Linked DNA regions of Homo sapiens: all the other regions are linked to region 1. The links come from fine-mapping of genetic effects on gene expression. A gene starts in region 1. Each other region holds a variant in brackets. All regions are shown on one strand. Distances are between the middles of the regions.

Region 1 (6,510 bases):
CCACCAACCACCAGTTCTTCAGTAGAGATCAACTGGGAGTCCTACAATTTAACTCTATTCTGACTCTATCTACCTGGAGAAAGCATCAGATCACACAGGTTAAGGGCTCAGTCCCACAAGACTTCCCCCCAATGTCAGATGCCAATCACAAGTAGTAGGTTGTCACACCTATACTTCTGACCAACTAGCTATAAGTTGGGGGTCCACAACCCCCTTCTCAGGTTCAGTTAATTTGCTAGGTAAGCTCACAGAACCACAGAAAACACTTGCTTATATTTACCAGTTTATTATATTAATGAAGGATGTAATTAGGGACACAGATGAAAAACAGTTGGAAGAGATGCAAAGGGCAGAGAATGTGGAAAGGGATACAGAGCTTCTGTGTCCTCTCTAGATACGCCACCCTCCAGGAACTTTGATTTGCTCAGCAATCTGGAAATTCTACAAACCTTGTCCTTTGGGGGGTTTATGGAGGCCTAATTACACAGCCATGATTAATTACACCATTGGCGATCAAGTCAACCTTCAATCCGTCTCCCCTCCCTGGAGGTTGCAAGGGAGGTGGCACTAAAAGTCCCAACTCTAATCATGCCTTAACAAGCTCATTAGCATACAAAAGACACTCTTAATACCCCAGAGATTCCAAGGATTTTAGGAGTTCTGTGCCAGGAACCAGGGGCAGAGACATATTTCTTATTATATCACAATATCACAGCTTGGTGCACAGAAAATAAAGCAAACAAAAATCAAGACAAGGCAATCATTAACTCTAGGAAAAGCAAAAAGTTACAAGAGGGATGAAATGCCATAAAACACTGCACGGCAAAACAGTGAAAAGTATTTGCAAAGTCTTCTTAGTGCAAACATTGAATTTTTTTTTAATGATGGCACTACTATATTGGGTAGTTGAAAAGAAGAGAAGGCAGTGTGTCTGGAGTAGGGTGAGCAAAGGGAGAATGGTAAGAAAGGAGATCAGAAAGGAAAACAGGAATTAGGTCATGCTGAGGTTTGGATTTTCTTTCCTAAGGGTGCTAGAGAGCCACTGGGGAGTTTTAGACAGGAAACTTGAATGCTCTAACTCATGTTTGAAAATAATAACTTTGGCTCTATTGTGGAGGAAAATATACCATGCAGGGATAAGGTGAAAAGCCAGTAGGCCCGTTGGGTAAGAGGGATAAGAGGCTTCTGCAGAAGAGATTTTTCCTATAATGTGGCCTGGACTGGGAAAGGCACACTTCGGGATGTAAGGAAGTGGGTAGGTGGGAATATACTTAGGAGGTTGGTGGCTTACGGAGTAAAAAGAGGGACACAGGGATGACTTCCTGCATGTCAGCACAAGGCATGTGGAGAAGGCAGAGGAGGTTGTTACTGGGTTCAGGAAGGCTGGGGAGGGAATGATTTGCAACTAGAGAGTCTGGGATCTAGGGTTCTGTTTTGGACTTGTTAGGCCGAGTTGCCCCAGAAAGTACCAAGTAGGCAACTGTGCCAGGGCTCAGGGTACAGACAAGGCTAGGGAGAAACTCAGAATATGCTCAGACTCAACAGGTAGTAATTCCTCCTTTTCTCTTGCCAATGCAAAGAAATGTTTCATTATATGTTTGGCGTTTTATACGGCCTCAATGGTATGATTTGGGGCACTGATTGATTGAAGACTTGATACTGAGAATCTAAGGGTAAACAAGCAGTGAATCCTGGAATATATCACAATAGGTAACCCATTCAAAGTGCTTAGGCCTCCCTGGTTTTCTATTTTGGGTCATATCTGTCTTAAGGAAACACTCTCTCTACCAAAGCTGAACTCATAAAATAGTAAAAGTCCTCCCCCGCCCACACACACAAGAAATAATTTCCCATTATTAGCTGGATTTAATAAACATTTTCTTCCAAAAAAAAAATTTGTCCCTGCTCAGTAGACTTCTCTTTATGTGTACAAAGCACGTGCCAAGTTAAAGACCATGTCAGGCACACTTTGAGACACTTTCCGTTTTTTAAAAAGTTCTTTCTTAATAAACATTCAAAAGGACCAATTTGTTTAAAAGTCTTTCAAAGCACAATTCACTACAGGTCGTAGAGTTCTTTAAACCCTCAGCAGGATTCTTTCTTGACTTTCTCATTGCTTTGTGCAATCTTTGTATTTAATCATTTATCCCCGAATTGGTCTTCGCAGTGTGGCTTTTAACAAGAACTGGGTTTTAGCCACATTACAGTAGACGCGGTGGGGGCGGAGGGCAGCAGTGGCAATCGCAAAATAAAACGTATCATAAAGTGGTAACGGTTCGTGATTTAGGCCAGTTGTTGAAAAATAAATGCCTGTTATATAGAATCACAGAACTTGAGAGCTTGCGGCCAAGGGAAGTCGTTCATCGGTGGACCGACAGCGCCCCGGGCGGCAGAAAGAAGGCGGCGGCGGCGGAGACCCGGGGAAGTTGCCGGATTTTTAAAAAGGCACCTGCTGGGTGAGTCCTCACTGTGCAAACGGGAGCCACAGGTGCCCGATTTTAAGGGGCTACAACTCGGGAAAACCTAAGTCTGTAAAACTAAGTACGTTAAACTAAGTAAGTTCTCGCTGTGCACCAAGTTGATGGGGGCGATTATTTACGGCGGAGAAACTGAGTGGAGGAAGGAGGGAGAATTCCGCTAAAGTTTGCCTGCGACTGACAGCTAGGGAGTGACCTGGAAGCCAGGAAGAGGGGCAGAGAGGAAACTAAAGAAGTAGGTAAGAGAGTCAGTTTATGAAAATAGAGCCTGCTGTGGAGAGCAGCAGGCACACCTGCGGAGGAGGGGGCTGCCTCACCTGCGGGGCCGCTGCGCGCCCCCCTAAGTGTGTTAGCGGGGGAGGCGGGGCTGGAAAGGAAACCTGGTGAAGGGCTGGCCCGGAGCCTGGGGTGGGGATATTCACTGCGGGATAGGGCCAGCAAGAGGACCCGACACGCATCGTCCCGAGTGACACGTGTAAATGTCAAGATACAGAGACATCTGCAAATGTCACCCAAGAGGGTGAGGACGGGGGAGCGGTCCCGAGGCTGTGCCCTCCGGGGCAGGTACTGGCTCCTGTGGGGCTGCGGGCCAAGTGTCGCCCTTCCCCAAGGAATTGGCACCTGGGGGGGGGGGGTCGGTCTCGCCGCGCTGGAAGCGCAAGCCCCGGGGCTCCGGAGATGCGCCGGGGCGCGTCGCCCCTCGGGGCAGCCCTGGACCTCGGCGCGCCCAGGCGCAGCGTGCGGTGCCCTCGGCGGGGCGGGCAGCGAGCCGCCCTAGTTCGGCGACTTACCTCGGGCCTCGCAGGGCGCGAGCAGAGCACCGGCCAGGGCGAGCAGGAGGGCGCGGGCGGGGGACACGGGCAGCGGGCGCGCTGCCATCGTCGCCGGCCTTCAGTGCAGCAGCTCTCGGGCCCGGCGGCGAGCGCTGCACCATCCCACGCGGGCGCCGAGCCGGGGCCGGGCGTCGCGACCGGAGGGATTTCCTGCCTCGGCGAGTCAGCTCCGGAGCCCTCGCGCAGCGCCCGCGCCGCCGCTGAGCTCTTCTAGCCTTTCATTTTTAAAAAAGTTTCCCCCCGTGTGTGTGCGTGCGTGCGCGCGCGCGCGCCGTTCTGGCACAAGCCAGCCTTGACCGTTGCAATAAATGAGCAAACTGTCCGAGTTGGCCCGGGGACTAGGAAGAGCGTTAGTGAGAGAAGGCAGGCCTGTGAAATGGATCCACGGCCAGCAGTCACCGTTCTTATTACCGCGGAACAAATTATTGTCTCCCCCGCACCCCCGCCAGTTGGCGGCGTCCCGCGGGTCCTAGAGACCGCTCGGGTCCCCCCGCCAGGGTCCCGCCCCGAGCCGCGGCTCGCTCACCCCCGAGGGTGGGCGGCTCAGACGTGGCTCAGTGGCGTCCGGGCGCCCGGAGCGCACACGTCCCCGCCCCAGGATGATGTGGCCGCAGGGCCCGGGGCGCCCGGCTGCCAAGCGCACATGCGGCGGCACGGTCCAGCTTTTCAGGCTGAAGCTGGAAACGATGACTCTGCTACTCGCTCCCCGGCTCTCTGGGAACCCTCGGAGTGCGGGTCAGGTCTCCACCGCGGCCCACAGCCCGGCGCGCGACCCCGCCCGGCCCTAAGCGCCCAAAGGGGCATCTCTCGCCCGAGAAACAAGCTTGGACTCGCAGGCACAAGACACCTGGGCGTTACTTTTGATCAACAGTGTTAGGTTTTACGTTGATAGATTGGCTCACGTTTCCATTCCATGACCTGGACCCAGAAAAGGGTGTACAGTGACGTTCCCCAAACTTTCCTGATTGTAAGAAGCACCTGGGTTGGCTTGTTAAAAAGATTCCCGGGCGCCCTCCTACGCTTTCAGAATGAGACTCTCCAGGCTGTGAGGCCAGGGGAGCCCAGGGTGTTTGGAGAAACACCAATGAAAGAATGGTGCGCCTTGCCTTCTCATCCTTGTTCCGGGCTGACCCCACCTCTTCAGCCTCGCTCGGCCCTCAGGGAGACCATGAAAAGCAGCAGCGAGGGGGCCCGCACAGACAGAAATGGCTGGAGCTATGGAGGATGGCTGATGCCCACCCTGCGGGTTACCATGATTCCCAACCTTGGGGACTTATTAGAATAGTAAGAGTTAAAGACATTGCCAGCCCCAGACACCAGTTAACTCAGTTTCCCACAATGCGTGGAGCTCAATAGTTTTCAAAGCCTCAGGTGATTCTACTGTGCTGCTCAGACCTAGGACCACCTGCAGAAATTCCATCCTGGTCCTGCGACCTCGCACCGATTCCTGACGGAGCACCCACTCCTAGGAGGCGGTTATCCAGCATTTGAGGAAGCTGCCTTCCATACCATCTCTTCCCACTGCAGAGGAGTTTTCTCAGGAGTTCCCTCCCACGGCAGGTTTTGCAGTGTTCCCAAAACCCAGGTCGATCCTCCTAACAAGGTGCAGGACTTTCTTTTTAAAAAACCTTAGTGGGAAGCACAGGCTCTCCAGCCCCCTTCCCAATGCTGCCATATCTCAGTACCAGATCTGGAAACCAGGCCTGGTTCAAGCCCTGTGTCATATCTAACCGTACTACCAACCAGCGTTGCAGTGTACTTCTTTTGTTCATTCATTCAGTCAATCTACATGAGCAACCCTATGTTAGAACTTGGGAAACTAAACGAGAAAGCCTCTTGCCTTCAAAGACTTTTCTTTCTGATCAAACTGATAAATCATCATTATTGGACAGTGTGAGCTAGTTACTTAACCTAGTTAATAATGATTAGGCTTGTTTACTGATATGGTTTGGCTGTGTCCCCACCCAAATCTCATCTTGAATTCCCATGTGTTGTGGGAGGGACCTGGTGGGAGGTAATTGAATCATGGGGGCAGGTCTTTCCTGTGCTGTTCTCATGGTAGTGGATAAGTCTCAAAAGATCTGATGGTTTTAAAAAGAGGAGTTCCCCTCCACAAGCTCTCTCTCACTTTCTGCCTGCTACCATCCATGTAAGACATGACTTGCCCCTTCATGTCTTCTGCCCTAGCCATGTGGAAATGTAGGTCCATTAAACGTTTTTCCTGTATAATTTTACCCAGTCTTGTGTATGTCTTTATCAGCAGCACGAAAACAGACTATTTACTACTTCATAATTCATTACATACCTCGTATAATCGGAGTATTGTGCTAACGTCTTTCACCTGCATTATTTCATTTTTTAAGTCCTGAATATACAGATGAGGAAACTGCAGCATAGAGATGTAGCTTTCCCACCACCACACAGTGAAGTAGGTCAGAGCCCAACCTCAGATCTGTTAAAGATAAAGCCTGTTTCTTTAAGGCTGAGTTCCAACCTTCAGTTTTAGCAGCTGTTAAGTGAAGGTAAAATACAAACCTCCCAGGTGGTTGTGAGCACCAGGTGAAATAATGCAATGTCTCCCAACCCACCTGATCCCTGGGATGTCTGTTAAGAATTCAATTCCTCTGGCGTTTGCACTGGAGATTCTCATTAGAAAGGTCTGGGAAGGACAAGTTTTAGCAAGTACTTAGGTGATCCTGATACTTGTGGCCCATAGAACTTCAGACACATCGACGCAAGAGAATTAAAAATTGTTTTCTTCCAGCTCAAAGGGCCAGATTTGCTTGCAGATGAGCCCAGCCACTGGCCTCTCGGATCCTTCTGACTGGTTAAATGGTTTATTCACAATGGACCTAACATGTGCTGTGCACTGGGCTGGGGGCCTTGTATACATTTTCTCTTAATGATCAATTTATTTTCGCTCTTTCATATTCAATTGTTAATGTTGACTGTAAAAGTCCAATTTCTTTTAAACCTGGATGTTGCAAAGCTTCCTCCAAAGAACTAAATGTGCCCCAAGACTGTCCTTGATTTGTTTCTGACTGAACGAAAGAAAACAGCCATTGCAGAGGAAAAATGAAGAAAAATAAAATCCTGGCTGCAAGCTCTGGATTTCAACCCTGTAATTCACCATCTCTGTGAAGCAAGCGGCCTGGGCTGACACTGTCTCCACAAAGCCTTCATAGACATCAATAACAGCC
Region 2 (6,510 bases), 250 kb before region 1:
ATGAGATCATGAGGGAAGCCCCATGATGGGATTCGTGCCCTTATAAGGGACACCAGAGCTTCCTCCCTCTGTACACGCACAAAGAGAGGTCACGTGAGCACACAGCAAGCTAATGACTGCCTGGAAGCCAAGAGAAAAGGCCTCAGGAGGAAAAATCAATCTTGTCAGCTCATTGATCTTGGACTTTCCAGGCTCAAGAACTGTGAGAAATAAAATTCTATGGTTTAAGCCAACCAGTCTATGGTATTTTGCTATGGCAGCCCATGCTAAGATAGTGCCTGAGAATGAAAGTAACACAGAAGAAGGTAGAGGCTTGAGATAGAAAATAGACCGTGATAATATTAGCTAGGACCCTGTATCCAGCCATGCCTAGATTTTTCAGTAGCATAAGCCTATCTCCACATTATTTTGTTTTTCTTTAAGTCAGTTTGAATTCGTGTTTTTTTTTTTTTTTTAGTTGGAGTCTTACTCTGTCACCAGGTTGGAGTGCAGTGGTACAATCTCGGCTCACTGCAACCCCCGCCTCCCGGGTTCAAGCAGTTTTCTGCCTCAGCCTCCCAAGTAGCTGGGACTACAGGAGCATGCCACCACGCCCAGCTAATTTTCGTATTTTTAGTAGAGATGGGTTTTCACCATGTTGGCCAGAATGGTCTCGATCTCTTGACCTTGTGATCCACCCGCCTCGGCCTCCCAAAGTGCTAGGATTACAGGCGTGAGCCACCGCGCCCCCGGGCAGCTTTTCTCTTCTTTACACACAATGACCTTAATGCCAAATTGAAGGCTGAAAATATCCAGCCTTCAACACATGACCTTTGAAGAAAGAGGTCCACCTTTCAGGCCCCAGAGAGGCACAATAGTAAAGTGTGGATTTCCCTTTCCAAGTGTGTGTGGTCCTTACTACCATGGCCTTGTGTATCTCTGCCCTGGTCTCTACAGGAGCTGCAAAGCTTTGCAAGGAATTATCCCAGGAGTGCTGCATGAACACCCCCCCCCCCTCAACTAGTCCAGTCCCAGAATCAAAGAACAAAGACTGTCTCATGATGCTCACTAGAGGTGGGCACAGGGCTTGGCTTTCCTAGAGGTCACTGCATTTGTTTACTGTTTCTCCCCTGGCACCCATCACAGGGGAGAAACAAACTCAAACTTTGTTTGAACATGCAAACTTCCCACCATGCAAACTGGGGCTCAGAGAGGCCCAGTGACCTGTCCATCGTCACACAGCTAATTCACCACCCTGACTATCATGTTCTAGGGTGAGAACATCTACCTGGGGTCCCAGAGTATCCATTTTGAATTGGTCACTCACCTTCACCTCAGATGCCACCAGGTCTGATCCCATTTCACCCCCTCATCTCTGTCTCCTCCAGGAATTCAAGCACTGGTTTTCCATGAAAACTGGCCCCTTATCCCCCACAAGTCTTTAATCCTCTACTGACCCTATCCCCACTCCCTTTTCCCTAACCCTTTCCACTGTGCTCTTGGGGCTCATGGTCCATCCTCAAATCCTATCCTGATCCAAATCTCTTCCAGAATATTCCTCTTACCTCCTTCCCCTAGCTGAATCCTGGCTGATTCCACTGATATCACCTCCCCTGCAGCCTCTCAGGATGATACTTCATTACTTAAAATTTCTCCCTCATGTACCTCAGCTCCTTGGTGGTGAACAGTTGTCATCTTTGCTCTAAATTGTCACTTCCAAACTCTCCTTCTTCACCTTCTCCTGAGCGCCCACTCTGCATGCTGGGCGTGTACGCGTATTGGAGTCCCTGCCTGGTAGTGGATTTTGCTGCATCTTCAGTAGGTCCTTTCATGTGCTCACACCCCACGCTTCCTCAGGAAAGTGACTTTAAGACACAGATCACTAACAAAATTTAGAGTCGCCAGCCTCTCTAATACCCGTGGAAAGGTCTCTCGACTCTCACAAAAGTTGCCACCTTTGACCAGGCCTGCCCCACCACCTCTTACCAGAGTTACTCTGAAGACACCTACCCAAGCCTCCGCTTCTGTGCACATTCCCTACAGTCTATTTCCAGCCTGGCAGCTGGAGTGCCCCTGTAAAAATGTGAAGTCAGACCACATCACTTCAGCTCCAAGCTCCCTGGCACCCATCACTGGGGGGGAGGCCAAAGGACATCTGATCACCTTCGTGACCCCTGGTGATCCTACCTTTCCACTTCCCTTCTGACCTCATTTCTCTCTACTGCCTCCCTGTCCCTGTCCACTCTAGTTATGCTGGCCACCTCGCTGCTCTGGGAATATCCCAGGCATCTTTCTGCTTCAGGAGCTTTGCACATGCTCTTCTCTCTGATATGCTACCTACCTCATCTAAAGGGCTCACCTCACCTCCTTCCGAACCTCCCTGACTACCTGTTGCCTTTCCTGTCCTCCATCTCAGCTTTGTCTTTCTCCATGATCCTTGACATCATGTATCTTACTCTATGTCCATTGTCTGTTCCTTCCACTAGGAAGTGCTCCAGGAAGAATGCATTTTGTTCAGTGCCGTGCCCCCAGAACCTAGAACAGAACTGGCAATGAGGAAGCACTCAAGGAATGTTTTCTGAACGAATGAATAACTGAAGAGAAGCAAATTCAAACCACAAGGCACCTCCTTCACTTTTCAGAGTAGCAGACATCTTAAAGTTCAATTGTGTTGCATAAATAGGACATAAAAATGCTTTTAAAAAAATGCAGGTATGCAGAAATGTGTGTGTGCATGCAAATGTGTGTGTTCACTCAATGATTTGGGTCTGTGTCTGCTAACTTGGAGAGACAGACAGGGTTGGGTGACAAAAGAAAGCCGTAGAATGATGTATATGATGTGACTCTATGTTTGTAAAAATAAACAAATACACACCCCAATCTCTGACTATGTGTTTACATGCACAAGGGATGAGAAAGCTGGGAGGGGAATTCCCAGCTTGCATTTTTATCTGAGTGGGACTGGAACGGGATGAACGAGGAAGAGGAATAGCTTTGTGTACTTATTTTTAGTTACATGAAAGGACCAACGCTGGTAAATACTTAGAGATAAATCAGATGTATTGAGCAATGGGGAACATGTGAGCAAATAGAACTCTCATTCTCTGCTGGCTGGAGTAGAAGTGAGGGCAGCAAAGAATAAACTGGTAGGTGTGTGGTTGTTGTGTGTGTCACATGCATATTCTCATCCTCCATGATCCCACACAGAACCTGCAAAGACGTCACAGGAACTGCTGATGCGCAGAATGTGATTCTGCTTTTTAACTCAAGCAGGTATATCCTTCCAGGGCCTTCTCTCTCTTCCCTCCCATGGAATCATGCTTTGGTGCCTTGGGCCAAAGTTACCCAGGACTCTGAGGTTACAAACATTTAGTTCACAAATTCGATAAGCAAATCCAGTAAAAAGGCTGAAACAGCTGGAAATTTATCAAACAAAATGATTTTCCTGGGGAGCACATAAGGGCCACCTGATGGCCAATAACTGTGATGTGGAAGGAAGCGGGCTGTGAGTAACACCTGGGGTTGACTTGTCTAGCATGGGAAGGTAATTGTTTCCTGCATCATGCCCGTAGCATAGTAGCAAACCCCCTACCAATCCATGCCTCTATTCAACTCACCTTGGTTGTTGCTAAATTAGTTTCCTTACTTTGTTTCCTAATGAGAGGAGGCCCTTTAAGATTTACATTAAGCCAGCAGCTTCAACATTGGTATGTAATGTTCTATCTTTTAGCACTGGGAATTATAAAGCATCAGAGCCACATAAATGGAAAATAATTCACAAAATGCTTGGATGTAGAAACTCAACCAGTTCAGTCGCTTTTACCCCACCAGGCCTGAGGATGGCACTGTAAGAGGGGGCATGAACATGAGGCTAAGATCCTGGGTGGCCATGCTCTTGTAAGCAGTGGAGAGAGGGCCTCCGTGTTCTCTTGCCTAGGTGGAGGTGTAGCTGAGC[TG/T]GGAGCCCCCATCACTCACTCTCAGTGCTTTAGCACGAGCAGGAAAAGACAGAGGTTGCCTGCAGTAGATGGCTGAAGACTAGAGCCGCCATGGTCATGGCCACTTACCTGAGACCAGAACACGTGCTGAGACTGACTGCTGAATCAGAATATCCCCGTACATGTCCATGGTAGTAACAGTGACCCTAAAGGGGAGGAGGAGAGAATCCCATTTCAGTTATAACACATTTTTGCCCACTTATAATAAATCAACTGCCTCTTGTTTTTAACTATAGAATTTTCCATTGCATAAAATATTGTTCTACAGTCTTAATATTTAATGCAAAGCCCAACATGACCCAGCCAGGGTCTATGTCGGGAATATCTGATTTACTTACAGATTACCAACAGCGGTTTTTAAATGAACCCTAGTTTCACTCTTGTCTCTCTGGCACCCTACAGGAAAGCCCTGATACAGAACGTTTTACAAAATCCAGCAGCAAAACAAATCACATTGACATCGCCATTTTACCCTCATGTAAATTGTCTTTTGTAATGAGATGAAGAACTGTAGGGGGTATTTAAGCACACTGTGAAATGTAATAAAACAAGGCCTAAATCTGTGGCTTATGAAAACGGGAAAGCAGATGAGAGGAAGTGGGGGTGAAGAAGGAAGGAGGGGACCTCACTGAATTACCCAATTGAGAGCTGAAAGTCTATCTCGGCAGGAAAGAAAAATAGGAAGGTCTTCTAAGTCTAAGACAAAAGTTCCCGTGTGTCATGCCTGCAATATTCTATTCTTTGATAATGTCACAGCTTACAAAAAGAAACCACAGCACAGACACTTCCTTAGTGAAGACAGATATCAGTCCGGAATCAAGGTTAATTTTATCATCGAGCAAAGGTTATGCTGCAGCCCCAATTAAGTGGCAGACTGGCAAGAAGTGGCTGAGTATACTCAGTACTCCTCACTCAGATCCTCTGGACGCCAGCTGGGTGCAGGTCTCTGCAGAGAAAGGTACATGCATCTTCTCAGGGTTTCCTCTGAGAAGCTCCTCTTTTGAGCAGCTCAGGTGTTAGTCTGTCTCCACTGCACCCTCCTTAGCACACAGCTCCTTCACACACGACAACAGTCATGCACTTTGTCCAGCGCAGAGCTTGGTGTCCAGTCATTCTGCCCAACAAAACCCACCTTGACTTTGCTAAGAAAAAGCACCAGATGCAATTGAGTCATGAAGAAAACCAGACACCACCATGGGAAAGGGGCTAAGATGATCTCTTGGTCTCAACGTAGATGACAAAATTCTCAGATCATCTAAAAGGCGATGAAAGGAGGGTGATAGGGTTAAGGGGTTGCAGGGACATTTATTATTCTGTTGAGCTTTTTCATATTAATTTTAGAAGTTCTTTATATACTCAGGATATTAATACTCTGCCTGTTATTACATGGGAAATGTCTTTTAACTTTGCTTATGGTATTTTTTGTTCAGAGTTTCCAGTGTATATCAATCTAAATGCATTTGTCGCTCTCTTCATGCATTTTTTGCATAGCTCAAGGTGGCTGTTTTCAGGGTCACAAATATGTTCTTCTTTATTTTCTTCTATCTTTATAGTCTGACAATTAGCTCTTTAATCCATCTGGAATTAATTTTTGTGGGACTGTGAGGTTCAATGCTAACTTTCCCCTAAAAATGAGAGCCAGCTGTGCTTTGCTGCCATTTTTCCTTTTCTCACTGATGTGACATGCTACCTTGGCATATATCAAAGGCCCACAGTATGTTTGTGGTGCCACTTTTGTACTCTCTGTGCTAGCCCACTGAGACAGACATCCATTTGTCTGTTTCTGTGCCAATTCCACACTGTTCCAATGACTATTGCTCTATACTCTATTTTGATATCAGGTAGAGTTAAGTTGTCCTTTAAAATTAAGATTAAATTCACTTGCCATAAAACTCACCTTTTAAAAGCATATATAATCAGTGGGTTTTGTTGTATATTCACAATATTATATACTCATCACCACTAATTGATTCTAAAACATTTCTGTCACCTCAGAAAGAAATCTCATATTCATTAGCAGTCACTTTCCATTCCCTGCTCCTCCATCTCTGGCAACCATTAACCTGCTTTCTATCTCTATGGATTTGCCCGTTCTGTTATTTTATAGAAATGGAATCATACAATAAGTGCCTTTTGTGACTGGCTTCTTTCACTTAAGCATGGTGTTCTCAAGTTCATTCATACTGAGGCATGCATTAGAATGTCATTCCTTTTCTACAGCTGAATCACCTTCTGCCTTGTGGATGAAAACATATTTTGCTTATCCAAGTGTTGAGCACATGAGTTGTTTCTACTTTTTGACTATTATGAGTAACGTTACTATGAACACATGTGTACACATTTTTGTAAGGATGTGTTTCCAGTTCTCTTGGATATGCACTATGAGTAGACACGTGGGTCTAAAAGTAAGGTTGCTGGTTATATGGAAACTCAATGTTTAACTTTTTAAAGTACTGCCAAACTGTTTTGCCAAGCAGCTGAACCATTTTACATTCCTGTGAGCATTACACGAGGGCTCTAATTTCCCCACATATTC
Region 3 (6,510 bases), 280 kb before region 1:
CAGAATGTCACCTTCATCACTAAACCACTCGTCTGTTTTCCAGTCTAGGATGTCCTCTTTCTCCACGCAGCAAGCAGTTATTAAGTTAGAATGGTCCAGGAGAGCCAAGACTTCAGCAAATGAGGAAGTTGCCACTGGCACAGTCGTTGTTTTCTGGACTGAGACACTTTCATTTGTAGAGTTGAAAAACTGAAATTTAGAATTGTGTAACAGAGCTGGGAGTCATCTGTTCATAGACTTGGAAGCACCAAGTCTCCCAGGGGGCCTGGGTATCTCCTCCAAGGTCTTTGGCGTCTGCTGGGGATGGACAGGGATGTCAGGGCCAGGGGTAGCTGTGTGCTCAGCAAATCGGCTCTCTCCCTGCCAGAAACACAAGGACAGCCAGGCCGGCAAACTCCACGGAGTCCGTTAGGACTTTTCCGAGGCACAGTGTTTTTTAATTACCAGTGCAAGTTATTAACAAACCCCTAATTGCTCATTTTTGGTTTTGCAAACTGAAGCAAGATATAACCTAGAATAAATGTGAAGAAATACAAACACAGAGGACCCAAACACATCCCTTTTTTAAAATGGGGCTTCAGCAATTTCCAGTTTGGGTTTAATATAGTTTATCATTTCCTTTTGCTCCCGAGGTCTAAGAAGAACTCGTGTTTTCTTCTCGTTGGACAGTCTGAGGATAGCCTGAGGCCGTTGGGGCAATGGTCCAACTCGCTCACCTTGGAGTGGCACCTGCGCTCCCAGCTCAGGCACCTAAGCCTTCCGCCCTCTAGGCCAGTGCGTCTCAGTCCCACTTCATGTTAGGATAACTGGAGGACCCTGGAGAATATCTGTGCCTAGGCCCTGTGCCAGGTCAATCAAATCAGAATCCCTGGGCCAAGGTGTGGGAATCAATATTTCCTAAAGTAAACATATAAACAAATAGACAAACAAACTCCCCTCCAGGGGTTCTAATGTCCAGTCTAGACCGAGGTCCAGTTCTAACTGCCGTGCTATCTTTGATGTCTCCTCTAAGACCCACCCTTCATCCCCCCTGCCAGGATTTGCCTTTCACCAGGATTCTCCTGCACCTGGACTATGGGATAAAGTTGAATCTGCAAAGAGTAACTACTGAAAACACATCAACAGGCAGGGGTTGCCAGGAAGTTTGACCTGCTTCAAAGGTGGACAAGGGCAATATCATCCCAGGATATCAACGGCCATGTGGGTTTTTCTGACTTCCAGAAAGTTCCATGTAGCCATAGCCTCTCTCTGAGTGGCAAACCCAGATCTCTGACTGTTCAGAGTGCCCTTCAAACTCCTCTTCCTGCTCCCCCTTTCCTGGGGTATGAAGCATCGTCTACCTGCCCCTCCACTCCAACGAAACTGGCGGTCATGTGGTCTCCCACTCGCCCTCAGCCTCTGCTTGGTCATCATGAGGTCCCGGGACTCACAGTAGGGGGAGTAGAGTCAAAGCCAAGAGCCCCTGCTGCTGGGAGTTGGCAAGACTAGCACTCATCCCTCGTCCTGCAAATGAATAACCTCTGCCCATCTCAGCCTCCTCTGCTTTAAAAATAAGAACAATAGTGTGTACCTGAGAGTGTGTGCAAAGCACTTAGAGCCCGGCACACAGTAACTGGTAAAAATAATAATCAGGAAACACATCCCTTCGAGCCTCTCTCAATCCTTGTCCTTCTCACTTCCCCACTTCCCCTGCCCTGGGTCAGGTCAGGCCTTTATCCCTTCTTTTTCTTCTTCTTCTTTTTTTTTTTTTTTTTTGAGATGGAGTCTCGCTCTGTCACCAGGCTAGAGTGCGATGGCGTGATCTCGGCTCACTGCAACCTCTGCTTCCCGGGTTCAAGCAATTCTCCTGCCTCAGCCTCCCGAGTAGCTGGGACTACAGGCGCATGCCACCACGCCCAGCTAGTTTTTGTATTTTTAGTAGAGACGGGGTTTCACCATGTTGGCCAGGATGGTCTCGATCTCTTGACCTCGTGATCCGCCCGCCTCGGCCTCCCAAAGTGCTGGGATTACAGGCGTAAGCCACCGCGCCCGCTCAGGCCTTTATCATTTCTATGCAATAGGCTCCTCTCAGCCCTATTTGTCTTTGGTTATCCCACCCTCCACACTAACTGCAGGAATATTTTTCTACTATCATGTGTGTCTCTCCCCTGCTTAAAAACATTCACCTAGCTCTCTATTCACTGCAGAATAACATCAAGATGGCTTCGTAGAACAGCCGGGGCCTTGAGCACCGTGAATCTTTGCAGCTTCATCTCCTCCTGCCCTAGCTCTGCATGCATACATTTGCATACAATATGAGCATGCATGTACACAAACACACATACATGCATGCAGGGCACACACACGTATGAACACACACATGAACACATATAGGAACACACATGCATGTACATGTACATGAAGCACATACATGTCCACATCACACATACTCCTTCTTCTGCTATGCTCACAGTGAAACTGAACTTACCTTTGAGGATCCTCTCCCTGCAAAGACTCCCTGGCCCTGGGAAGAAGTAAGTGATTCTCTTCTGCATCCCCATAAACCTCCATTCATAGCATGGATCTAGTTCTTAATGCCTTGGACCATGCTGTGTGGGTTGCATGTCTGCTTCCCTACACAGCCTTGACGTTCTCAAGTGGAGGGACCACATCTGATTCATTCTGAATTATTGATGCAGAGTGCATAAGGTCTTGTAATATGGAGCCGAATTTCTGAAAGGACCTTTGCCTTCATTTTTCTGAAAACTTAGAGAATGCAATTCAAATCGAATAAGATTGCTTGGAAACAAGGCTAGAGTGAGGCACCCTCACAAACCACTATGTGTAAAATCTGCTGTTTCAGAGGACCATGGATGTGAAAGGCTCAGCCATGACCAGATCCCTTCTCACACTGTCCCCACAGGCAAGAGACTCAGTATTGCTGAGAGACTATGGTTGCTTTAGGACAGCGGTCACCATCCACATTGCACATGAGAATTGCTGGGGAGCTTCTGAAAATTCGAGGTCTAACCTCCCCCCCGCCCTGCCCCTTGAGGGCAGCAATGCTTTCAGAAGCTCACAGGGCAACTCCAATATGCGGGGCTTGTGAGAAGCCTATTTTAGGCTAAGGGTCGTCAGCA[G/T]CAAATAGCCAACATCCTCTCCAGCAGGATACACTGAGGAAGGACAGGTGGTTTAGACAGAGAGCGCTGCCATTTTCTTTGCCGGCCCGCAGTGTGAGGAGCGGTTAGTGAACAAGTACCCCAGGAGTAGGACCTGGTTTGCAGGGGCTCCTCCAGCAAGGAAATCATCTTTGTGAAAGGTGAGTTTCTGACCTACTTGTTCTTGGCGAGGGATTTTCCAATAGCTGATTTAGCTGAAAGTCAACTTCTGTGTTCCAGGACAGTGAAGCCTATGGATCCCTTATAAATGCAAGCCCACCCTCAGGGTTACATTGGTACAGGCCTGCAATGATGGGGACAGATTGAAGGGGCCTGTGGGATCCGTCATCGGGAGACCTGGGAGAGGCCCGGCTCAGGAGGAATCCAAAGGATCAGGTGAACTCTGTAGGGGTTCTGGAGCTAATCGGGAAGTCCAAAACACCCTCAGACTGGTATTCCACCTGACCGGAAGAGAGCCTGGAGGAAGACATGTCACCAAGGCCACCATAGTCCAGACTGCTGTGGTTTGGCATCTCCTGAAGCTGCCCCAGGACCCAGGAATTACACACTCAGAGGACAGGAAACAGTTCCAAACCAAGGCCCAGAGGCAGAACCTCATCTCCTTGCTAAGTCAGATGAGGTCCCCCAACCTCATTTCCAAACATTTACATGATCTGAATGATTTAACTACTGAAAAAGAACTTACCTTGTCAACGTGATTAGCAATCTCTATTAATCGCTGCTTAACTTTTTCCAGATCTTTTCCTTGCCTCTGAAACTTAACAATTTTAAATGGCAGCATTAATACCAGCAAGAATATCAATCACGTTTCATCTTCCTGGCTTCTGGAAATGTGAAGTCTTGGGATTTTACAAACCACTGGGGACCCTCCACAGTTCACGGTAAAATGAGCTTGCATCCTGCCGACTAACTTTCCCGGCTGGGGACTCCCTGAAATTCCCTGAAATTTGCCTAAGCCAAGTGCTCTCAAGACAGCAACTTCTGCAATTTTCCAGCCTCATAAATGATGGAGGCAGTGACTTGTTTTGGCAAAGAGGAAACAGACAACTAGAAGTCAGTCCAAAGCCATTTTTCATATCATCAACTTGATTTTAACTTCCTGAGAAATTTTCTTTATATTTGTTTTTAAAAATTAAAAAGTAAAAGTCATAGAAGCTCATGGCAGCTTGTCAAACAATACAGAGGAGAATAGACAAAAAAATCAACAAATTTCCCATTCCCCTCTCTAATCTGACCTTCCAGAATGGGAATCATTTTCTGAAAAATAGTCAAGCCTGTTTCATTCATAGGTGTTGAAAGAGTCTATGAGAAAATATCACCCAATCACCCAATTCATATATGCCAATGAGGCAGTAAATACAGAGAAGATAATCTTTAGAAAAACTAATTCAAAATTAATTAAAATAAAAAATGAATGTAGTATCAAGCTATAGCTCAGAGGGGAGGATTTTTCTGCTGTGTCTCTATAGCCTTCATTCATACCTTCATTTATTCATTTTGATTAATGACATATGGGATATTTTTTAAATGTCCCATTTTAAAGACTAAACTTTTCCCCAAAATGTTTTAGAATATAATCTAAAGCCTTCTGTCATTCCTCTCAGTTAATTCTCCTTGTTTGGAGAGCTGAGCTATAGAGCAACTCTGTTTTTTCCTGCAGGCTTTGCCATTACTTTATATATCAAATAAATTTTTAATATTGTATGCTTTATAAAATCAGAAAACCATTGTTTCAATGGGTTGTTTCCATTGCTTTTAAGAGCACATAGGAAATGAGGTTCATTAAAGCAAGTAATAACTTGCAAAACATGTCCTTTTTTCTTTTATCTCTAACCAACCATACTGAGAAATTTTAAAAAGTTCTTACCTCTCGGTTGTCTGCCACGATCACCAGCTCCACATACTTAGTTGCCTTGAGGGTCTCTCTTTTATGCTGCCAAGAGTAAACATGCACTTAATCTCTCTTAATGCCTCTCTGGCATTAAGACTGTCAATGTCTCTCAATCTAAACACTTTAGGTTGAGAATGTATATCCCCCATCCCCGCCAGGCCCCCACACCTCCATTCCATCTAGAAGTTTACCCCAACTCCAACCAACTCTTTGTAAAACCTTCTCAACATGAGTAACCAGCTTCCATTTCCACTTGGAAAACCCTTAAAAAGGAGTTTAAGCTTTCTGCTGAATCATGGATTATTGGAGCAGCAAATCAAGATTATTAAACAAAACGAGCACATAAACAAACAAAACCAAAGCACTCTCTAGAACAGGAGCCAGTCAAAAGTCATTTATTTCAGACCACGTGTAGGTCTTCTCTGATGACCACATTTGAAGGTCATCAGAGAAGACGACGGAGTTCAATGCACTGTGGCTGTTCCCTTTGTCTTTATGGTCCAAGTGTACCTGTTTTGAGACTTAAGAAAAGTGGAGGAGAATACATTTTGAACAGGAACTGTATAATCATTTTTTAAATGATAATGTAAAAATCTAGTTAGAAGCAATGGAAGACCGGGGTGGTCTGGAGAAAAGGAAACTGTCAGACTAATGAACAGAGAAGTGAGAAAGGTATGAGGAGAAAAAAAAAAGAGCAAAGAGAAAGAGAACGGAAAGAAACAGAGTTAAGAAAAAACTAAGACTGCAATATGCCCCTGGAGAACAGGGATTTCGTAAGAGTGAGACAGTTGAGAGAACATGGAAAGTGGATATGGAAGTGGATGAATGGAGATGATTCAGGCAGCAGAAATAGGAACCCCGTCCCCCACAAAGGCAGCTCCTGAAGTGGATCACATTTTAATCAAACTTCCTCAAAAAGCATTCACACTCTTCTGTGAATTACTGGAAGAATTCCAAATGCATTTTTAAGAGAAATAAAGCAGTTCGTGGAGGGTGGTCTCAAAAAGCAAACATTAAAAACAAAAAACAAAGCCTTCTGTTTCTGCCATAAAATGCAGTTGGAGGAAGTGGGGGTTAAGTTGGTCTTTGGTCCTGATGACTGATATTGCTGGTTTATGAGTTAACTACACACACTGCTTCAAGTTTAAAACTTGCATGTTATAACCACTCTTTCAGACAAAAGCAAAAGAAAATCACAAAAGTATGCTTTGAATCAGGTTTCCAGTCACATAATCCTGAGGGAAACATCTTTTATAAAACAAATCCCCATCAGTCCGGGATCTTCCAAACAGACTTTTACAAGAAAAATGTTTGTATTATAGCAGTGTTCCTTCTTGCTGCCCAGCTGTGCTAATTCATGAATTTAGGTGTTCCTAAAGATATCTGGAAACCTTATGGAAAAGGAAAAATAAAGCACCAGGAAAGGTACAATTTCTCATATCTTTACAATGTTACAAGAAG
Region 4 (6,510 bases), 96 kb before region 1:
ACCAGGCCCCAGCTGACACCAAACCCTGCCAGGCTGTGGGACCACCTCCTCAGACCTCTGCTGCCCCGTGCCCTCTCCCACTTCCAGGCATCTCTGCCAGCACCTGGCTGCCTGCTGAGGACCATCAGATGCCAAGGCGGGGAGGCAGAAGGCCGAGGCCGGGATGAGTCTTTCCTGTCAGCCACGTACCACCTGGGCTCATAAGGACCACTGGTAGCCCCAGTGCCATGTGCCTGGCATCCACATCCACGGGTACCAGCCCCTTGCAACGTTCAGTGTCGATGCCAGCTGCACTGGAAAGCAGGGCTGATGAGGAGGTGTGCTCACCATGGGAAGAAGGCCTAGGCTGGGTTCCAAGACCCAGTTCATTTCAGCATCCTCGGACCACCCCAGGTCTTGGAACACCCTGATCAATTTCTAGGAGCATCCTAGGTTGAAAGTTTATGGAGATGCAGCAATTCCTCCTCTTTTGACTGCAAAGGAACAATAATTTTAAGCAACAAAGAACTATTTCATTTTGGAAATGTAGCATTTTTCCATTTAAGAGGCTACAGTAGGAGGGGCCTCAGGCTAGAAGGCTACGGTCAGACGGCAGCTGTGGGCCATGGACTGAGGGCCAATCTTTTAACTCTGCTGGACCTCAGTTTTCTTACAAGGAAAATGGGATAACAAAACGCTTTTCCTATCATTGTGGTCATAGAAATGACAGTCCCCAAAGATGTGCTAACCCTTGGAATGTGTGCATATGTTACCTTACTTGGCAAAAGGGACTGTGAAGATGCAATTAAGGTTAAGGACAGGGACCTCACCCTGGATTATTCAGATGGGCCCAATGTAATCACAAGCGTTCCTGAAGGCAGAGAATCTTTCATGACTGGGGTCAGAAAGATGTGACAAGAGGGCTTGACCCACTGTGCTTACTCTGAAGGTGCCAGAAGGGAGCCATGAGCCAAGGAACCTGGTGTCTCCAGAAGCTGGGAACCGCCCTCAACCGCCAGCAAGAAAATAGGAACCATGTTCCTACCACCACATAGAACTGAATTCCGCCAGTGCGTCAAGGAGCAGGAAATGGGTTCTCCCCCAGAGCCTCCACCAAGAAGGAAGTCCTGTGGACACTTTGTTTTTAACCTGGTGAGATTTGAAGCAGAGAATCCAACCATGCCCACTGGGCTTCTGACCTTGAGATTTTGACTGTGAGATAATAAATGGGTGTCATTTTAAGCCACTTAAACTGGTGTGATTTGTTATAGCAGCACTAGACAACTGACTTAATTAGTATGATCGCTATGAGATTCAAATGGTAAAAAGGCTGTTTGGAAACCATCATGCGTGACAAAATGAAAATGCATGCTTATTACAGAAATCCAATCACAAATCAAACTGCTACTGCACAGCATGACAGTGACAAGATACCGTTTCACTTATTATCGATTGCTAATTTCCCAAATTGCACCCTTTTCATGCTTTTTATAGTTAGATCAAAATGGGCATAATAAATGACGCTTCAAAAATTTTTCAAAAAGGAATATTATACATTTATTAACTGAGGGCCTATTTATGAGCCAGGCACTGGGTCCAGTCCTGGGTTGATAGCTGAAAGCAGCTTAGCTTTCCCCCTTCTTCTATATGGGAAGAGGCTCTTACGTACTATGTGTACGACCAATCATAGAAGGGGATAGAAGGTACTAGAAGACCTGTAAGATGCAGCACAAAATATGTGAATGTACTTCATTTTGGTGTAGAATGTTTTAAGCTAATACTTTCTAATGTATGCTTACTGATATAACCAGGGACATTAAAATATTATAAAAGCACAGAGCATTGTTTTTGGAGTGGCCTCTGAGGCCTTCTAAGACACAGCCAGTGGTAGAATAGCATGGACTGTGTTTATTAACCAGAAAGCTTGCTTCCCATTCAAAGTGCATTTATATAACTAATTTGATGTCTGGAAACATTCATGTACCATTTTTTTTTCCTACAACACATTTCAAAACTGTCAGTCAGGGGAAGTTAGCTTAAGTTGCTAGTTTGTTTGCATGCAAGCTGTCTTCTAGAAAAATACCCCATTCATATGTTGACTAAAATCCATTTATAAAGCATCACTGTAATGTCTTTCAAATAAACATTAGCAGAATATACTAAGCCCTTTAAAGAGTAATCCTGCTATCGATCACAGAGGCACCGCAAGTCACTATGTACTGAGGCCGAATGCAAACAAGTTTTTCTATTACAAACAGAATTACAGCTAATTGCTAACTTTTTAGAAAACACATTCAAATTGCACCATGAAAACACACACTACAAGCCTCATAAAGATCTTGCAAAGAGAATTCTCATTTCATGGCTGCAGACAAAAATTGAAGTTAGAGTGTCACTTGCTCTTCCCTTTGCTTGCCTGCCTGGCTGTGTCTTGAGGCATTCATGAGAGCCTCAGCATCAGGAGGGAGATGGCACGGGAGGAATGGGACAGAGGTGCACGCTGAGGCTGGAGGAGAAGCTCCACTGGAGTTGGGAGATGGAGTCAGAAAGCCCAGGGCTCGGGGGGTGATGGATGCAGCTCTGGGATTGAGGACTCAAGGCAAAAGCAGATGAAGGACTTGAGAAGGACTGGGGGTCATCTGGCTGTGTGGCCCCTTGGAGCCACCACGTTAACCAGACTATCACTTCACCAGGCTTGCAGGGCTTTGCAACCTTTATGGGTATAACTTTCCATTTCAACCCAGTCTGGCTCTGGGACAGAGACATCCTCAATCTGTACACTTTGCTAATGAAAATTGGGGTTCAGCTTTTTTTTTTTCCCGTTGAAACATTAGAAAAATCAGCCAGTCATGAAGCCCAGACATACTTATGAAAAACTTGGTCCTCTATGTAGAAGATGCTCGACGCCAAATCTCCAGCTCTGACTGCTCTCTTGAGCCCAGCACATGCATTGCAAATGCCCCACAAGCCACAATCAGCAGATCTCTCCCTGGCAACTCAAAGGCTACAGTGCTGAAAACTCACCAGCTCATTTCACATTTCTCCCGACTCCCCCGAGTGCATTCCTCATTTTGTGACCCCCTTGTTTTTCCTATTGTCATCATCATCCTTTTGGCTCCCATTGGTACCCTCTTCTGACTCTCTTTTTCCTCTCGGTTCCAATGTTGAATTAGTGGCTGAGTTTTGCAATTCCTTCTCTGGAGTACCTCCACAGTTCCTTCTATTCCTGCAACATGGCCCTCATTCCAGCTCTCCCCTGGCTACTCTTTCATCAGCCAGTCCTGTATATTGTTCCCTGAGCTGTTTTATTAATGCAGGGCTCAAATAATTCTTCTGCCCTTCATATATAAAGCCAAAGTTGGGTACAAAGCCAAGGTTCCTGAGCATCCCAGGCTCCTCCACCTGCCTCCTCTTCCTCCATCCCATTCAGTGCTCTAGAGCAGGGTTGATGCACATTTTCTGTAATGGAACAGATAATAAATACATTAAGCTTTGTTAGCCATACAGTCCCTGTCATGACTGCTCAACTCTGCCACTGCAGTGCAAAAGCAGTCATAGATCATATAAATGAATGTGGCTGTGTTCCAGTCAAACTTTATTGATGTACACCAAAATTTGAATTTCCCATCATTTTATGTGTTACGAAATATTCTTTTGAATTTTTTTCTCCAGTCATTTAAAAAGGTAAAAAAAATAAAAATAAAAAATCTCAAACACAGGAAAGCATCAAAATCGCCTGGAGTGCTTATTACAACAGATATCATTGCGCCCACCTCAAGTTTCCAATTCAGATGATCTGGGTGGGGCCCAAGCATTTGCATTTCTAGCAAGTTCCCAGGTGATGCTGATGCTGC[T/C]GGTCTGGGGACCACATTGCAGAACCATTGTTGCTCGACCAAGTTTCACAGGCCAGCAACCCACAAGGCTCCTTCAGCCTGTAGCTCTATCACTGGCATGGCCCCAAAGTGGGCGCCATCCAGTGCTGTCAATTTGATTAAGTTGCTAACACCTAAGAGTCAGGAGAATTCTCAGACAAATCTGGATGTGCAGCTTCTGGGAGGGGAGAAATACCAGGAAAAATGGCAACCCTTGGTTTCTACTTCAATGGTAACAGTTGGCTAAAACTAACTAGAGGCCACCAATTCTCCCAGCCCCACCTGCCCTATGGGATCCACACATGGAGCCCAAGGGGCAAAGCTTACCTGTCATCTTATGTCTGGCTAGCTTCACTAGTTTGTAACCCTGGCCTGGCCCCTACAGGTATTGACTTCACAATCCCTGGCCTCAAGTCAAACAGGATGATGATGTGGGATACACATGAAACAAGTGAATGAGCACCCCATTTATTTTTATTTATTTTGTTTTTTGAGAGATGGAGTCTCACTCTTCACCCAGACTGGAGTGCAGTGGTGTGACCTTGGCTCACTGCAACCTCCACCTCCCAAGTTCAAGCAATTCTCCTGCCTCAGCCTCCTGAGTAGCTGAGATTGCAGGTGCATGTCACCACGCCTGGCCAATTTTTGTTGTTTTTTAGTACAGACAGGGTTGCACCATGTTGGCCAGGCTGGTCTTGAACTCCTGACCTCAGGTGACCCACCCACCTCGGCCTCCCATTTCTTCTTTTGCCCTTCCTTCTAGTTCCTAAAATACTCCCCATCTTCCACAAGGCCCCTTCAGATGCCCTGGCCTTTAAAACTCTCCATGAAGGCCCAGGTAGAGCTCTTCTCTCCAATCTCTGCTCTTCTAACTATACTGCCACATTTTACCTGAAATGTAGTTATTTCTGTTTACTCACAAACACTGTCTACCCACTGGGCTTCAAGCCTCTTGAGGCCTCAGGCAACTTTGAAGACCCATCAATGTGCCTCAAGCATTGCTTCTTTGTATATAGAAAGTATGAAATCAATGTGTTTTTGGATCAACTGTATTAATGCCTCATAAAATGCGCTCATCCCTTCATCAGATGCTGACAGGGCAGAACCTGACACTGTGCTAAGTACGGGCTGTCCACCCTGAGAGTCAATCTTGATTTTTGCTACAAAGTCAAAGTCATCATTACATGGAATAAGTGGATATACTAGAATTTTGGCTGTTGATTTGCTGACAAAGTATTTAAATTCACCCTTAACACAGATGAATTTCAGACCAAAATAGAAAATGTAGTCCTTGCTGAGGATGAGGCTGGAATGATCAGAAGTGTGTGATCACCAAAACCTTAGCGTATTTTCAGCCTTCGTGGATGATCCCAACTGAAACTAAACCACAGGAGTGAAAATGTCACAGCATTTAAGGGGTCACTGTGGAAACTGCAGGATTTCTCCCGCGACAGTCTCGGCTGTTCAGGTTTCCTCCCTGTTCTGCTAGGAAGAGGAAAGGATTGCTCCATTCCTAAGAATGACCTGACTTAAATGATGAAAAACTGGGTAAATAATCAACTTACTTGGACTATAAAACTAATGTGGACTTGAAAAAAAGGAAAACAGAGGAAGAGTCAAGACAGCTAACAGACGTAGCACGTGGGTGTGAATAACTTACAACTGACCAACATGATTTACAACCAGTAAGAACCAAAATTCCATTATTTTCTAGAGATATCATGTCATACAGAGATTCCTGAACTCCTACAGACAAATCTTTTATTTGTAATGATTTCAGAGAAAATAGTTCAGAAAAGATTTCTGATGCATTATTAACTAGAAGAAATTTTGTATAAACAAAATTGTGTGTAGATGTGTGTGTGTGTGTGTATGTGTGTGTGTGCCTGTGTGTATTCTCCCTAAGTATACAGTAGGGTCTTACCTAAAGTTGCAATGGAATAAGGAAATCCAAAAACTGTTACATGATCATCAAGCTTAAATGAAAGGTTTCCTTGCTAATTTTTTACAAATGGAAAATCCAGGCTCAGTGGAAAATAAAAGGAAGTGGTCAGTTAAACCCATCAGAGCTTCAGAGGAAACTATAACTCATTTTTTTTTAATATTATAGCTTCCTCTCCCTCTCCCCCCAAAAAATAGAATCACATAGATCTGGGGTCAAATCTAAGCTCCATCACTTACTAGCTGTGTGATGCTTTGGTCATTGTTAGCCTCTCTGAGCCCAGTGTCCCTCACAGGTAAGTCATACTATGCCAGCTGGGAGGACTAAATGACATAGTTTCTATCACAACTTGGACAGGGATGGCACATAAGAAGCACTTCATGTGACTGACAATAAGGATTACACCACACTGCCATTTGTATTGGTCATACCTCTGCTCCTTTTGTCTAAGAATATATTTCCGTTGCCCTGCAATCCAGGAAAACACTACTGTTCTTACAATTGAATTTTCATTTTGCTGCAAACCATAACATCTTACCACAAAAATACACACACACACACATACACACACACACACACACACACATCTCTGTTCTCCTATTGGAAGTGAGAAAAAGAATCACTCATAAGAAGTTCATCCAAACTGACAATCATAGTTACCTGAATAAGAAAAGTTAATAAATGTCTTCTCAATAACTCTGGGGGACTCTATCCTTT
Region 5 (6,510 bases), 160 kb before region 1:
CTGCAGTCTTTAGCCCGTGGCTTCACCTGAATCACAACATACCAGCTCCAGAGCCCCTCTGCTTCCTGCCTTCCCTGGCTCACCTTGGCCCTGGACTGCCAAAGAGCCACTGTCACGATGTCAGGTCAAACGTCTGTTGCCACCTACAAGTGAGCAGGAAGGGACACAGGAGAGGGGCGTGTCTGGAGGCACTCTGCAGCCCCAGCCAGCTGTTTCATGGAGGATCCCAGGCAGGTGCTGCAGCAGGAGACGAGGGAGCAATTACTCGGGAAAAGTGGACATCAGGGAAGCATCAGAGCCAAGCCAGTCCCGCCACCCTCCTCCTCTACGTGAACGGCTTTTGTTGTCAGTCACAGATACTGCTCCTGCCGCCTCTGAGTCAGGTTTGGGAGTGAGAAGCAACTCTTTAGAAAGGGGGCACCCCCGAAGAGGGCGGGATCCTCTGAGCCCACTGTTTCGACTGCTTTCAGAGGAGGCTGTGCTGGTGGCAGAAGGGCAAGAAGGCTTTTTTCAAGGATGAAAAACATTCCTGACCATTTGTACCACATACACCTCTGCCCGACCCCTGGAAAGGGTGGCCAGGAGCTGGCTGCCTTTGCTAAAGCACCATGTATATGTTTTCTGTTGTGTCTCAAGATTCAAAGCAAGGAGGTAAAAGGGAAATAATGAGAAAGGAGTTATTAAAAAATATGTCACACACTTGGGGAGTCAGAGTTTGAAAGCTGAATGCTCTCTGCAAAGTTTCCTCGTTAAGTGTTCCCATTTTGCCGGTGAGGAAACACGCCCAGAGAAGTAAAGAAACCTGCACGGGATCGCACGGCAATTAGTGTGGGGGCAGAGCCAGAGCTTCCGTCATCCATGCGTGATCCTGCCCGATCATTTGGAAAATCGGTTTTTAGCCGTGAGCCCGACTGCATAACTGGGCGGAGGTGTGCGTGTGTTCATGCTTCACACGTGGGAGTGGAAAGTGAGCATGTGTTCAGGCTGCAAAATGAGGGCAAGAGGGGCCTGGATTCCCCTTCACAAAGCAGACTGACCTGGTCAGCCACTCCGATAACCAGCTGGAACTTCAGCACAAACCATGTTCAGCTTTTATCACCAAAATAAGCAAAAGACTTCAGTCTGAACCATAGCTCACAGAACTGTGGCTGGGAACGTTGCTCCTCTCTGACCTTCCTGGAACTGCAACTGGGAATTCCTGCAGTCACAACGCAACCCTTACAACGATGTTACGACAGGATGTAAGAGCCCAGAGCGTGGTAACTCCAGCCTCCCTTCCAAATGGAACAAAGTCGAAGCCTTTCGCAGCTTTAACAGAAATGGGAGTGCGGAGCAAAGTTTATCAAACATGAAATGGGCATCTGGGGTTCAACTTGAGTACCCTCAAAGGGCAGCAGGGACAGGCATCTTATGGGGGAACAGCTGCAGACCTAAGATGTCTGGCACAGACCACCCGTGCAAGCCAGGATGGTGCTCTAGGCACATGGTACAGATGGGTTAAAGGTGACGGCCCAGCAATGAAACCGGGTGCTCTGCATAATCCCTGGGGAAAGGTGGTGGTGGGGGGAGGGGGCGGGGGGAGTGGGGTGGGAGTGCTGTTCTTTCAGCCACTGGATGTCAGCCTGAGCAAATCTCTCCAGGACAGAATCAGAACCATGTGGAAAGAATGCACGAGTTCAGGAGCAGGAATAAGAGGAGAAGCCGGGTGGGCATGGGCGTGGCTGGTGGGCACATGCCTTGCCTGGTGAGGAGCTTCTGTGTGGAGGGGATGCGTGTGCAGCCCTGCGTTGGCAAGGGGTGTGAAGGCAACATGGGCACAGCTGACATGCATGCAATGGTGGCGCTGCTCCAGAATCACATGTCATCACAAGAGGACTGGGATTGGGCTGTCGACTCTGACGGGCCTGAGCCTGAATTCTGGCTCTGCCTCCGGCCAGCTGAGGGACCTTAGGCAAGACTTAGTTTTTCATACCTGCAAATTAAGGTTAATAATTATACCTCCCATTCAAGTTTGTTGTGAAGGCTAAATGAGAAAAATGCATGTAGAGAGCTTGGCTTGTAGTAAGTGTTCAGTAATTGAGGACAGAAATAGTAAATGTTCAGTAATTGAGGACAGGAGCCAACATTTACTGAGCGATTACTATGTGCCAGGCACTTTACCGGGTGCCAGGACACAGGACAATGATGACTGACTCAGTTATGCCCTCAGAGCTTATGGCCTGAAGGACTAAGGCTGTTTTGCAAACTGCACTAAATTTCTGGGTGGAAATATGAACATATATACTGGCCAAGTGAACCAATTCCTGTTTTGCTCTCTGTTCTCCTTGATGCTTGTTCTCTGAAAATAACTGCTTATCGTACAGCAGATTCAACAATAACATTTCTATGAAGATAAGTGTTTCCTGCTACCACCAGCATTACCACCATCACTATCATCAATACTTGCCCTGTCACCACCACCATCACTATCATTATCACCAACATCACCACCACCATTACCATCACCATCATTATCACCATTGTCACTACCATCACCATGATCATAATCACCATATCACCATTATCACTAACACCACCACCATCACCATCATGCCCACCACTATTACCATGATTACCACATCATCACCATCGCCATCATTACCATCATCATCGTCACCATCATCACTATTATCACCATCATCATTGCCATCACCACCTGTCATCATAACCACATCACCGCTGTTATCATCATCATCTTCACTATTGCCACCATCATCATTTTCTCTTCATCATCAACTTCACGCACATTGTGAGGCACTTAGTATTTGCCAGGCCCTTTGTTAAGCCCCCTACATAGACGATCTCATTGATGTTCAAGTAGCACACTTTTTTCATGACAGCATGGGCCAGCAGCAGGTACGACACACAGGAGCTTGTTAGAAACATAAATTCTCAGTCCGCACCAGACCCACCGATTCAGAATCTGCATGTCAGCATTATCCCCAGTGCTTTGCAGGCATGCTCACGTTTGAGAAGCCCTGGCCCAGATAAGAAGATGGCATTCAGGAAGGCACCGTGTCTCAGCAGAAAGTGACTGCTTTGGAGAGAGTACCCCCATCACCTTTCTCTTTCCCCTCCTTTTCCTTCCCAGGGACCCCACTGAACAATCCTTCTGACAACCTCACTAGGCCAAGAAAACAAAGAGGCAGAAAAAAATGGCAATATTTTTGTGAGGCAGAGAGAGAGCTGGGAGTGGAGAGGACAGTGAGGAGGGAGCTGAGTCATGACAG[A/G]TGGTGAGCTGGCAGCACCCCCCAGAGCCATGCCTTTCATACCATTCATATCCTGGAGTCCCTAGGGAGGAGACAGTGGGGACCTTCCTGTGATGATTCCCCTGGATCAGGGTATGTCTGGGTGGAGACGAGCTTCCAGAAGCCAGGGGAGGGAAAAGGGGTCAAGGACGGCCCCAGACACTGCCAGTCCTCACTTGAAAGCAGATAGGACATCTGATGGGGAAGCCTGCACCCCTAACAATGCTTGGGTTCTGGAATGAAAATCAAGTCCCATTGACAAAAGCAAATCAACATTTTCTGAAAGTTCACAAAGTCGTAACTGTACCCCCCAATATGCCAACAAACGATTGGTATTAACAAAGGCTTAACACTTGGAATGTAAGAGTTTTTGATCCATAAAGTGCATCCTAAGATATTTTTTCCCCATTCAACTTCCATTAAATGCATGATTCCAAGAGATCGTTTCATATAAGACCAAGAACTGGGTGCTGAAAGAACAGAAGTGAAACAGATTTTCAAAAAGTAACTTCAAATGTACAATGTTGGGCTCAGATAGAAGGATTTAATTTTTATAAAACCCTAAGAAGGTTTAGTTGTATTTTTAAACATATGTTTTTTGAAATACTTAAATAGAAAACATCCTACTCATAAGTCTATTTCATACCAGAATGAAATCAGATAATTAGAAATCATGTTTCTAGTAGGGTATTTTTACACTCTGGAAATATAAGACAATTTCCTACTAAATGAAACACTTTGTTGCACATTTTTGTCCTTCCTCCTGGAGCTTTTAAGTTCTGATTATCAGGAGGAAGGGGTGGACTTTAAATTCATCCTTCTGCCCCCAAACCATGCTCTGCAGTAGACATGGGCCAGGCCTCCCACCCATGTAGCTGAAGCTTCTGATATGTTCAAGCCTCCTCTTTTCTTTAAATAAAAGTGGCTGTTTTCTTTGCAAGTATAAAATAAACCAAATGTAAATCCAGTGATTAAATGCAGTAAGATTTTATAGATTAAGGTTAAAAAAAATTCTTACTGGCAGTGTGTACAGAGGGTTGTCAGACAATATAAAATCAATTGGTATGGAAAGAAAGAAAATCCAATACCTTTTTGTGGTTCCCCTGTTTACCAGGAAAAGAACAAAACAAAAGAGAAAAACCTGAGATGACCACGCTAATGGAAACACTTCTGCAGGGAGCCTGGGGATTTCTTTACCCAAGTGATCACATGTGCAGATGCCCTCAGAGCCTCCCCTTCCCAGGAGGCGGGCAGGGGCTTCCGGTGGAGGGAGAGGAACCAGGAGGTGGGCAGGGGCTTCCGGTGGAGGGAGGGGAATCTAGGAGGGGAAATATTATCAATTGGCCTGAAAGTTCTTAATTTGCCTTTTGAGAAAAAGCCTGTAGGAACCAAATTCCAATCCTGTTTGACTCCTGTGACTTCTCAGCCTCAATTCTGGGTTTGTCTGGGCATGGCAGTTCTGAGGATAAATTATGTTTGATGCATTTGAAGACTTTCATTCATTTTAATGGCTGCATAATTGTAAGAGCCTTTTAAAATTGTTTGTAGAATAAAAAAGTTATATATATTAACTTGAGAAAATTATAAAGAATAAATTTCAAGTCTCCAATAAAACACATTAGAAAATATTAATTAGCATTGAATGTATCTATTTCCTTCCATTCTTTCCCTATACATGTGCATTCTCTCCCTCTCCCTCCCCCTCCCTCTCCCCCTCTCTTCCTCTTCCCCCCCACTGTCTCCCTCCAGTCCTATTCTCTTTATCTCTCCCGCCTCCTTCCCTACCTTCCACTCACTCTTTCTCCTTCCTCCAGTTGCAAACCTCACTTTTCCTTTGGGAACCCCCTTCGTGCTCTGTTCATGCCTGCTGTTCAGATGGAGCTCTGCCCCGTATTCCAGTAAATGCTCGAAGGCATGATTGTTAATCTCTTACTGATGTCATGCTTCTGCGCTTTCTATTGAAGACTCTCAAGGCCCTTGTGACCTGGCCGCTGCCGCACTCTAGTATCCCACATGCAGGTGCTCAACGAGTTGTGCTTCTCCAGCAGTGTTTGGCCCTTAAGGTGTCAGTCCACATCCTTGGCTTGGCCAATTCCTACCTGCCCTTTATATGTGGCTAATTCTTACTGATCCTTCCATTTTGGCTGAGCTGCAACTTCCTCCAGGAAGCCTTCTTGTGGTACTCTCCTTTCCTGTCTTACCAAGCCCAGGGAAGGTTCCTTTTCTGTGTGATCTTCCAGCCCCCAAAGCACTCATGGCATTGGGCTCTTATGGCCAAATTACTTATCTGTACCTCAGATGCAGGGTACACTCGTAGAGGGGTCAGGGACTGGATCTGTTTCTACCCGCCCCTCACACCTTATATTTCCTGCAGCTAACACTGCTCCTGGCATTTATCTGACGTTCAATACAACATCTTCAATGCCTATCATGACCACACTGCAATGAATATACTTTTGCATATGCCTTGGGATACACTATACTTTCCTGAGGATAAATCCCTGATGTGAAACTGCTGAGTCGAATGCTGTATGTTTAATATTCTTAATATGTATTTCTAAACTGCTCTACCAAAGGGTGTATCCATTTCCACTCTTCCAAACTGTGTAAGAACCCACCCACTCTCCTGAAACTCCATCAACACCGAATTGTAGTTTTTAAAAGCTTTGCCAATCTGATAGATGAAAAATATGACCTCATTTGAATTTTCATTTAAGTATAAATCAATTGGAATGTTTTCCCACATATTCATTAGTCATTTGTACTTTCTTTGTGATTGTCTTAAGCCCTTTTTAAATTCAGTGTGAACGTCTTTTGCTTCCTGATTTGTAAAAGCTCATGATATATTCACTATATTTATGCTGCCAATATTTTTTCCATTGTATCATGTGCTCCTTGTCCTTGATTTGGATATTTTAATAAAAACAAACATTTTTAACTTACAGATTAACTATTAACTATTGCAGTCTTATCCCTTAGAGTTTTTTCCCTTTACCTTTACGTTAAGCTAGGACATGCATTAAATCTAAGGGAATTGTGTCCTATGTAAATTATAAAACTTGTGCTTTAGAAGGTTATAAGTTCAATTTTAGCAACCAAAAACATTTTATTAAGAACGTAAGACATCAACTTAAAGGGACTTCTTCATTGCATTGTCCTGTAAATGGAAGCATCTTCTGAGGCCCCTATTGACTTTTGCCTGCCATATACTGTAAATCTATAT

Which allele goes with the higher level. Positions count from the first base shown, and alleles are read on the strand shown. Sizes are in standard deviations (SD) of each study's normalised expression. Not every link is listed here.
With allele A in place of G in region 5, the expression in fibroblasts of the gene that starts at base 3,688 in region 1 is higher (small effect, 0.23 SD a copy in GTEx).

The links. PIP is the estimated chance that this variant, and not a neighbour inherited with it, causes the effect. A credible set is the group of variants that fine-mapping cannot tell apart.
Region 2: its variant is the best candidate, but not a certain one, in a credible set for the expression of ADAM12 in whole blood (TOPMed, PIP 0.81).
Region 3: its variant is the best candidate, but not a certain one, in a credible set for the expression of ADAM12 in whole blood (TOPMed, PIP 0.52).
Region 4: its variant is the best candidate, but not a certain one, in a credible set for the expression of ADAM12 in testis (GTEx, PIP 0.52).
Region 5: its variant is the best candidate, but not a certain one, in a credible set for the expression of ADAM12 in fibroblasts (GTEx, PIP 0.61).

Annotation. Positions count from the first base shown.
Region 1 is chr10:126,384,790-126,391,299 of GRCh38, forward strand. ADAM12 (ADAM metallopeptidase domain 12) reads right to left here and starts at 3,688. Exons shown (of 23, transcript NM_001288973.2): 1 at 3,269-3,688. The coding sequence starts at 3,356.
Region 2 is chr10:126,131,541-126,138,050 of GRCh38, forward strand. ADAM12 (ADAM metallopeptidase domain 12) reads right to left here. Exons shown (of 23, transcript NM_001288973.2): 5 at 4,044-4,120. Among named protein-coding and RNA genes, the nearest start is that of FANK1-AS1, 160 kb to the left of the region's middle. RefSeq lists an enhancer at 3,638-4,837. The variant TG/T (reference allele first, on the strand shown) is at 3,935.
Region 3 is chr10:126,104,750-126,111,259 of GRCh38, forward strand. ADAM12 (ADAM metallopeptidase domain 12) reads right to left here. Exons shown (of 23, transcript NM_001288973.2): 7 at 5,026-5,091; 8 at 3,844-3,915. Among named protein-coding and RNA genes, the nearest start is that of FANK1-AS1, 130 kb to the left of the region's middle. The variant G/T (reference allele first, on the strand shown) is at 3,120.
Region 4 is chr10:126,289,193-126,295,702 of GRCh38, forward strand. The region is part of intron 2 of ADAM12 (ADAM metallopeptidase domain 12); the gene reads right to left. Among named protein-coding and RNA genes, the nearest start is that of ADAM12, 96 kb to the right of the region's middle. The variant T/C (reference allele first, on the strand shown) is at 3,834.
Region 5 is chr10:126,224,629-126,231,138 of GRCh38, forward strand. All of the region lies in intron 3 of ADAM12 (ADAM metallopeptidase domain 12), which reads right to left. Among named protein-coding and RNA genes, the nearest start is that of ADAM12, 160 kb to the right of the region's middle. The variant A/G (reference allele first, on the strand shown) is at 3,270.